Linked DNA regions of Homo sapiens: all the other regions are linked to region 1. Evidence: fine-mapped expression QTL. A gene starts in region 1. Each other region holds a variant in brackets. All regions are shown on one strand. Distances are between the middles of the regions. Region 1 holds the start of ANP32A (acidic nuclear phosphoprotein 32 family member A). Region 2 has its middle 61 kb from the start of MIR4312. Region 3 has its middle 56 kb from the start of MIR4312.

Region 1 (2,500 bases):
ACCGAATGACTCAGGTGGACGATTAGAATAAACCGTGCGCCGTTCTCTTTCACTAGGTCTATAAAGCCCAGAAATTATGTTTGGTCCAGAAAACCAGGAGTTATGAGCACCTTCCTTTTCCACCTTTTAATATTCTACATATCTAGCAACGGTTCTTAATCCATGGTCTTCATTCATTTATTGCCTAAACAAGATCTTGGGTGTCTCTTGGTGATCACTTCTTCCAAGCTGACCTAATATGACAGCAAAGTGAAAAGCCTCTTCGTGGGAAGGGTCGCGACCGCGCGGTAAGTCATCCAAAAGTGGAAGCATCTTGCTTTTACTGACTTATGTATACGAGGGTGGCGATGGTGGCGGCCTGACAGGGACGAGGCCGGAGGGGAAGGGGCGCGCGGGCTGCTGGGCAGCCGCGGTGGGGGTGACGGGGGCAGCCACGCTCCCCAGCGCGAGCCGCCGGACCCGGGACCCGACGAGCCCCTCCCGGCATTGCACCCTGACCCCTCTCCTCCTTCCAGGCCTTTCATCTGCCCTCCCGCTGGGCAGCCCGCGGTCCCCGGACCTCAAGCCGCCCGCCTCCTTCCGCAACCCCGTCGCGCCGCCCCGCGAAGCCCTCGGCCGGGCGGGGACCCCGACCCGACCCCTCCGGCCGCGCCCCTCCCCCTCGCAGAACGCACCTGCGGCCCCGCCCCCGGCCGAACGCTGAGGCGGCGGCTGGCTGGCAAGGCCGGGCGGCTCGGCCCTCGAGGCACAGTCACCTTCCCTTCCCCCGCCATTCCGCCCACCCCCCTCACTCAGCCACAGAGCAGCCGCCGCGCTCCTCAGCCGCCCCGAAATCTAAAGGGGTCCGTCTCCGGCACCACTACCAAATGGCCGAGCCTCCCTGGCCGGCTGCGCAGCCCGCCCATTGGTCCCTTCCCCCCCCCGCCGCCACTGCCATTGGCTGTTGCCCGGAGACCCTCGGCGGCGATTGGCTCGGGCCGCTGCCGCTCGTCCATGGGGCCGCAGATCCCGCCTCCACGGCGATCAGGTTAGTGTGCGCCGCGGGTGCTGGGGGCTCGAGAACCGAGCGGAGCTGGTTGAGCCTTCAAAGTCCTAAAACGCGCGGCCGTGGGTTCGGGGTTTATTGATTGAATTCCGCCGGCGCGGGAGCCTCTGCAGAGAGAGAGCGCGAGAGATGGAGATGGGCAGACGGATTCATTTAGAGCTGCGGAACAGGACGCCCTCTGATGTGAGCATTTGCCAAAAATATCTCTGTCGGTCCATTCTCCTACTTTGTGTGTGTGTGTGTGTGTGCGCGCTGGGGGGAGGCACTTTTTTTGGGGGGGGGCGCCCGGGAGGTGCGGGTTTGGGGGTCGGACTGCAAGCGAATTGGCAAGGCTGGGGGGTTGCAATGCCATCCGAGCATGTTCCGGCTGCCGCCGCCGCTGCCCTTGGTGTGTGACTACCTGTGCGTGTGCTCCCGCGTGTGCGAGTGTGGGTGCGAGAGTGTGCGTGCGAGTGTGCACCCATCGGGGGCCGGCGGGCGCACGCGTTTGGGTCGGAGAGAATGAGGCGAAATCACCCTCGGAGATCGCTGCTCCCGTGACTCCGTCTGGGGGGAAGATTAACGAGGGAGGAGGAGGAGAGGGGCTGCCTCCTGGATTTAACAACAAAAAAAGGGGGTTTTACATTTTATAAATGTATCCCCCCTTCCGCCCCCCTCCCGCGCCTCCCCCCTCCCTTTCTCTCGCTCGCTCGCTCGCACACACAATAAGTTTGGGGCTTCGCGAGTCCGGTTTAGTTTCTGATAAATGTGGGCCGAGGCCCCCGGGGAGAGCGCGTGGGGAGGGGGCTGCAGCGGAGTTGGGAATGGCTGGAGTTTAAAGTGCGTCTTCATTTCTTTGCAGTGATGAGGCGAGAGACGGGGGAGCCATATTTGTAACTTTGTAGTGTTCGTGAACGCGCCCTTTCTCTCCCTCCCTCCCTTTCTCTGCCTCCCTTCCTCTCCTCCTCTTTCTCCCTCACTCTTTCCACCCCACCTTCGGGCCAGATGCTGATGTTTCTTCCTTTCCTTCCGAAGGGAGGATAAATTAGAAGGAGGGGGAGGGATTTTCGAACGTGCTAAGGCACAGATAATCCCCGCGTCTCCCTGCCTCCAGCGATCGCTGGTGCAAGTTGCCCAAAGGCTACGTCCCGGTGCCCCCTCGCCCCAGCTCCTTCCGGCTTCCCCAAGATGCCAGCCTTTGGGCCCTGGTGCCCCCCAGCTCGAACCCCCGGCCCGTCTTTCTCAGTGCTGGGCTTGTCGGCAGCCATTCGGCGCCTGCTTAATAAATGGGCACGGGAAACTTTGTCAGGACGCGAGCTGCCCGGAGCTGGCGCCCGTGGTGGGTACTGGCTGGGTCCACGTTTATGCGGGCATGGCAAACACGCAGCTCTAGGATGGGAGTTTGCCCGCTAGCCGCCGTTATTGATTGGGCAGCGGCGGGAGCACGGCCGGAGGAAACTTACACGGGTGGGAATC
Region 2 (2,844 bases), 79 kb after region 1:
CTGACCTCAAGTGATCTGCTCACTTCAACCTCCCAAAGTGCTGGGATTGCAGACTTGAGCCACTGTGCCCGGCCAGCATTTCTTAATAGGATGCTTCATTTTTGCTTTTGGAATTTTCTTCCTAACCAGTAACACTGATTTTGCAAGTGCAAGCAATAGAAGTATCTCAGGACTGCTGCATGGTTGAATGATTCGAAGATGTTAAAGTGGGAAAAATCAGGGCTTTTGAATTGGAAAATATAGTATGGAATGTATTTTTCCTCATGTGGTGTGATGATCAATAAATAACCTGCCTTCTGTTTCTTCACAGCCCTTTGTGATATAGGTCCTTTTTATCATCTCTTTATTTTTTGGGTTTGAAACTAAATCTCAGAAAGCTAAAGAAACCTGTGCAAGCTGCTGGAGGAAGGGTTAGTACCCAGCTGTGTCTGACTCAAAGCCATCCCCTTTCTATTTCCCTTCCTATGCCTCCATTCTGACTTTTTTTTTTTTTTTTTTTGTGCTGGAGTTTCGCTCTTGTTGCCCAGGCTGGAGTGCAATGTGCAATGGCGCAATCTCGGGCAGCTCTATGGGTCAATAAACTCTGTTGACAGGGGAACTTGGGGGTCCTGCTGTCTGACACCAGGAATTAAAGTGGAGAGTAAAAATTCTGGAGAATTTAATTTTGAAAATATTCTTTTTCTTTTTCTTTTCTTTTCTTTTTTTTTTTTTTGAGACAGAGTCTCGCTCTGTCGCCCAGGCTGGAGTGCAGTGGCATGATCTCGACTCACTGCAACCTGTACCTCCCAGGTTCAACCTGTACCTAGGGAAGCTAGGCTGGGTTTTCTGTTTAGGGGTCTCATAAGGCTGAAACCAAAGTGTCAGCAGGACTAGGCTTTTATCTGGAGGTTCTAGGGGAGAATCTACTTCCAAGCTCACTCGGGTTGGTAGAACTCAGTTTCTTGTGGTTGTAGGACTGAGGATCCTGTTTCCTCCCTGGTGGTCAGCTGGGGGTATCTTTACTCCTAGAGGCTGCCTTCATTCTTTCTCACATTTTTCATGTCCCCACCCATCCCAGCAATAGTGAGTTGAGTACCCCTCATGCTCTGAATCTCTGGTTTCCTCCTCCTCCACCTCCTTTTTCTTCTTCTTCTTTTTTTTTTTTTTTTTTGTTGAGATGGAGTCTCACTCTGTTACCCAGGCTGGAGTGCAGTGGCACTATATTAGCTCACTGCAATCTCTGCCTCCTGGGTTCAGGCGATTCTCCTGCCTCAACTCAGCCTCCTGAGTAGCTGAAACTACAGGCATGTGCCACTACGCCTGGCTAATTTTTGTATTTTTGGTAGAGACGGGGTTTTGCCATGTTGGGCAGGCTGGTCTCGAACTCCTGGCCTCAAGTGATCCACCTACCTTGGCCTCCCAAAGTGCTGGGATTGTAGGTGTAAGCCACCTCACCCACCCACTGACTTGAGTCTCTGATTCCAGCTACACAAAGTTCTCTGCTTTTAAGGGCTCATGTGATCTGATTGACCCCAGATTGACCCCACCTGAGCAAAGCAGGACATGGCTCTATTTTAAGGTTCAAAACCTCAATTATATCCACAAAGACCCTTTTTGCCGTGTAACAGATAAATTCACAGGTTTCAGGGATAAGTGCATGGGCATTGTTGGGGGCCTGCCACACCCCCCCCCC[CA/A]GCTAGTTTGTAATCTCCATGAGGAGTTGGGGTGCCAGCACAGCCCTGGCACTGTGGGTGCCTAATAAACTCTGTTGCCAGGGGAACGTGAGGGTCCTGCTGTCTGACACCAGGAATTAAAGTGGAGAGTAAAAATTCTGGAGAATTTCATTTTGAAAATTTTCTTTTTCTTTTCTTTTTTTTTTTTTTGAGACAGAGTCTCGCTCTGTCGCCCAGGCTGGAGTGCAGTGGCATGATCTCGACTCACTGCAACCTGTACCTCCCAGGTTCAAGCGATTCTCCTGCCTCAGCCTCCCAAGTAGCTGAGATTACAGGTGACCACCACCACACCTGGCTAATTTTTGTATTTTTAGTAGAGGTGGGGTTTTACCATGTTGGCCAAGCTGGTCTCAAACTCCTGACCTCAGGTGATCTGCCCACATTGGACTCCCAAAGTGCTGGGATTATAAGCGTGAACCACTGTGCCCGGCCCTGAAAATATTCTTTACTCAGAAATTGATAGAGGAAAGTATGTTACCCCCTTGTGGGAGGTAAATGCCTTCAAGTCTTCGGCTCTTGCAGGTGGTAGTCCTCAGAGCGTGGTTCTCTTGGGTGTGAGGAAGGCTTTGGGTGCTGTGTGCTGGTGTTGGGGAAGAGGGGCAAGATGGCACATCAGCCTGGGCAGAATGAGTGTGCTCAGGTCCAGGAAGCTGGGTTGACAGATGCAGGCTTTTCTCAGGTGGGCTTTCAGCCAGTGCTTTGGGAAATCTTAGAGACAGAGGCTATGTGGCTGAAAATAAATCCACACACATCTGGTCAGGTCTACTTTGTGCGGGGGTCTACTACATTCAGGACCTCACCAAACCTCAGAGAAACCCCTCTAGGTGGGCTATAGCGGCTTCATTTTACAGACGAGGAAACTCAGGCTCAGAAGTTGAATGATATGTTCAAAGTTACACACTGAGGCACAGAGGCAGGACCGGAGCTTGTTCTTCGGTCTCGTAGTTCAATGCTCTTTCTGTTTTTGTAGTTGCCTCCTGGGTTGGAGGTAGGAAGACGTGGTTTGTCCCTAATGTATTAGGTGACAGTGGAAGCTCCTCTACTTGTTATTCAAGTCCTAGCCTACCTCTTTCCTCAGTCTATATTAATCTCTTGTTTCTTCTGAATTCCTACGACATTCATTTATTCATTC
Region 3 (2,844 bases), 74 kb after region 1:
TAATGTTTCAAGTAAATATGGGACTGTTTTTATTTCTTTTACAGTAAGACTTGTACTCTGTGTCTTTCAAGGAATTTGCCCATTTCATCTAAGTTTTAGAATATGTGGGCATAAGTTGTTTATAATAGTCCCTTATTATCCTTCTCACAGCTGAAGTATCTGTGGTAATGTCCCCTTTTTAATTTCCCTTTCATTGTTAATTTGAGTCTTTTTTTCTTGGTCAGTTGAGCTAGTTTATCAATTTTATTCATCTTTTCAAAGGTCCAATTTTAAGGCCAGGGGTGGTGGCTCATGCCTGTAATCCCAGCACTTTGGGAGGCCAAGCCGGGCGGATCACCTGAGGTCAGGAGTTTGAGACCAGCCTGGCCAACATGGGGGAACCCCATTTCTACTAAAAATACAAAAATTAGCTGGGTGTGGTGGCACATGCCTGTAACCCCAGTTACTCAGGAGACTGAGGCAGGAGAATCGCTTGAACCTAGGAGGTAGAGGTTGCAGTGAGCCGAGATCACGCCACTGCACTCCAGCCTGGGCGACAGAGCAAGACTCTGTCTCAAAAAAAAAAAAAAAAAAAAAAAAAAAAAAAAAAAATCCAGTTTTAGCTGGGCACAATGGCTCATGCCTGTAATCCTAGCACTTTGGGAGGCTGAGGTGGCAGGGTCACTTCCAGGCCAGGAGTTCAAGACCAGCCTGGGCAACATAAGTGAGACCCTGTTTCTATAACAACAAAAAACACTTAGCCAGGTGGGTGGCACATGCTTGTATTCCCAGCTACTGAGGGGATAGAGGGGCTGAGGTGGGAGAATCACTTGAACCAGGGAGTTTGAGGCTGCAGTGAGCCATGATCACGCCACTGCACTCCAGTCTGGGCAGCAAAGCAAAAAAAAAAAAAAAAAAACAAACAAGACCCTGTCTCAAAAAAAAAAAAAAAGTTGGGCTCAGTGGCTCACGCCTGTAATCCCAACACTTTGGGAGGCCGAGGCAGGTGGATCACGAGGTCAGGAGATCGAGACCATCCTGGCTAACACAGTGAAACTCCGTCTCTACTAAAAATACAAAAAAAAAAAAAAAATGTTGTTCCAGGCGTGGTGGCAGGCGCCTGTAGTCTCAGCTACTAGGGAGGCTGAGGCAGGAGAATGGCGTCAACCCAGAAGGCAGAGCTTGCAGGGAGCCGAGAT[C/T]GCGCCACTGCACTCCAGTCTGGGCAACAGAGGGAGACTCCCTCTCAAAAAAAACAAAAAAACAAAAAAACATCAAAATCAAGTTTTGTACCAAATTGATTAATATTCTCCATTCTTTTTTTTTTTTTGGATACAGGGTCTGTCATTACCCAGGCTGAAAGTGCAGTAGCACCAGTCTCTCCTGGGCTCAAGCCATCCTCCCACCTCAGCCTCCCAGGTAGCTGGGATTACAGGTATGCACCACCATGACTGGCTAATTTTTGTATTCTTTGTAGAGGCAGGGGATTCGCCATGTTGCCCAGGCTGGTCTCAAACTCCTGGGCTCAAGCAATCTGCCTACCTTGGCCTCTCAAAGCGCTAGGATTACAGGCAAGAGCCACTGCACCTGCCCTCTTTGTCCATTTTCTATTTCATTAATTCTACTCTTTATGATTTCCTTCCCATTTACTTTGGGTGTATTTTGCTCTTTTTTTCTAGCTTCTTAATATAGAGGCTTAGAACGCTGCTTTTAGGCACTTCTTATCCACTGTAACCAATTAAAGCTATACATTAATCTAATTTATTAGCACCGTTTTAGATGTGTCTTATAAACTTTTGCTTATTGTGTTTTTATTTTCATTCAGTAATAAATATTTTCTATTTTTCGGTTTTTCAGTGCAATTTCTTTCTTTCTTTCTTTTCTTTCTTTCTTTCTTTCTCTCTCTTTCTTTCTTTCTTTTTTTTTTTTTTTTTGATGGAGTCTCAGTCTGTCATCCAGCCTGGAGTACAGTGACGCCATGTTGGCTCACTGCAACCTCCACCTCCCGGATTCAAGTGATTCTCCTGCCTCAGTCTCCTGAGTAGCTGGGATTACAGGCATGTACCACCACACCGGCTAATTATTGTGTTTTTAGTAGAGTCGGGGTTTCCCTATGTTGATCAGGCTGGCCTCGAACTCCTGACCTCAGGTGATCCACCTATCTCGGCCTCCCAAAGTGCTGGGATTACAGGTGTGAGCCACCGCGCCCAGCCATCAGTGCAATTTCTTTTTTAACTCTTGGGTTACATGGAAGTATACTGTTTAATTTCTCAATATTTAGGGATTATCTAGATATTTTTCTTTTTCCTCTTTAATAAATAAATAAATAAATTAATTAATTAATTATTTTTCCAAGACAGAGTTTTGCTCTGTCGCCCAGGGTGAGTGCAGTGGCATGATCTCGGCTCACTGCAACCTCTGCCTCCTGGGTTCACGTAATTCTCCTACCTCAGCCTCCCGAGTAGCTGGGATTATGGGCATGCACCACCACACCCAGATAATTTTTGTATTCTTAGTAGAGATGGGGTTTCACCATGTTGGCCAGGCTGGTCTCAAACTCTTGACCTTGTGATCCGCCCGGCTTGGCCTCCCAAAGTGCTGGGATTACAGGCATGAGCCACCACACCTGGCCCTCCTCTTTATTTCTGTCATGCTCAGAGAATATATTTTGTACAATTTCATTCCTTATAAGTTTATCGAGATTGTATATGGCTTAGAATATGGTCTACATTTGTGAATGTTCTATGTACCCTTGAACAAGATATGTATTCTGCCAGTGCTGGGTATAGTGTTTTATAACTATATATTAGGTTAAGTTATTTAATAGTATTGTTTAAATCTTTTATATACTTATTGGTTTTCTATCTC

The links. PIP is the estimated chance that this variant, and not a neighbour inherited with it, causes the effect. A credible set is the group of variants that fine-mapping cannot tell apart.
Region 2: its variant is the best candidate, but not a certain one, in a credible set for the expression of ANP32A in whole blood (INTERVAL, PIP 0.75).
Region 3: its variant is the best candidate, but not a certain one, in a credible set for the expression of ANP32A in whole blood (TOPMed, PIP 0.84).

Annotation. Positions count from the first base shown.
Region 1 is chr15:68,819,426-68,821,925 of GRCh38, reverse strand. It overlaps ANP32A (acidic nuclear phosphoprotein 32 family member A), which reads left to right and starts at 1,031. Exons shown (of 7, transcript NM_006305.4): 1 at 1,031-1,228. The coding sequence starts at 1,175. RefSeq lists silencers at 490-549, 620-779, 830-1,079 and enhancers at 1,751-2,332, 2,333-2,500.
Region 2 is chr15:68,739,940-68,742,783 of GRCh38, reverse strand. No RefSeq gene overlaps it. Among named protein-coding and RNA genes, the nearest start is that of MIR4312, 61 kb to the left of the region's middle. The variant CA/A (reference allele first, on the strand shown) is at 1,673.
Region 3 is chr15:68,744,987-68,747,830 of GRCh38, reverse strand. No RefSeq gene overlaps it. Among named protein-coding and RNA genes, the nearest start is that of MIR4312, 56 kb to the left of the region's middle. The variant C/T (reference allele first, on the strand shown) is at 1,179.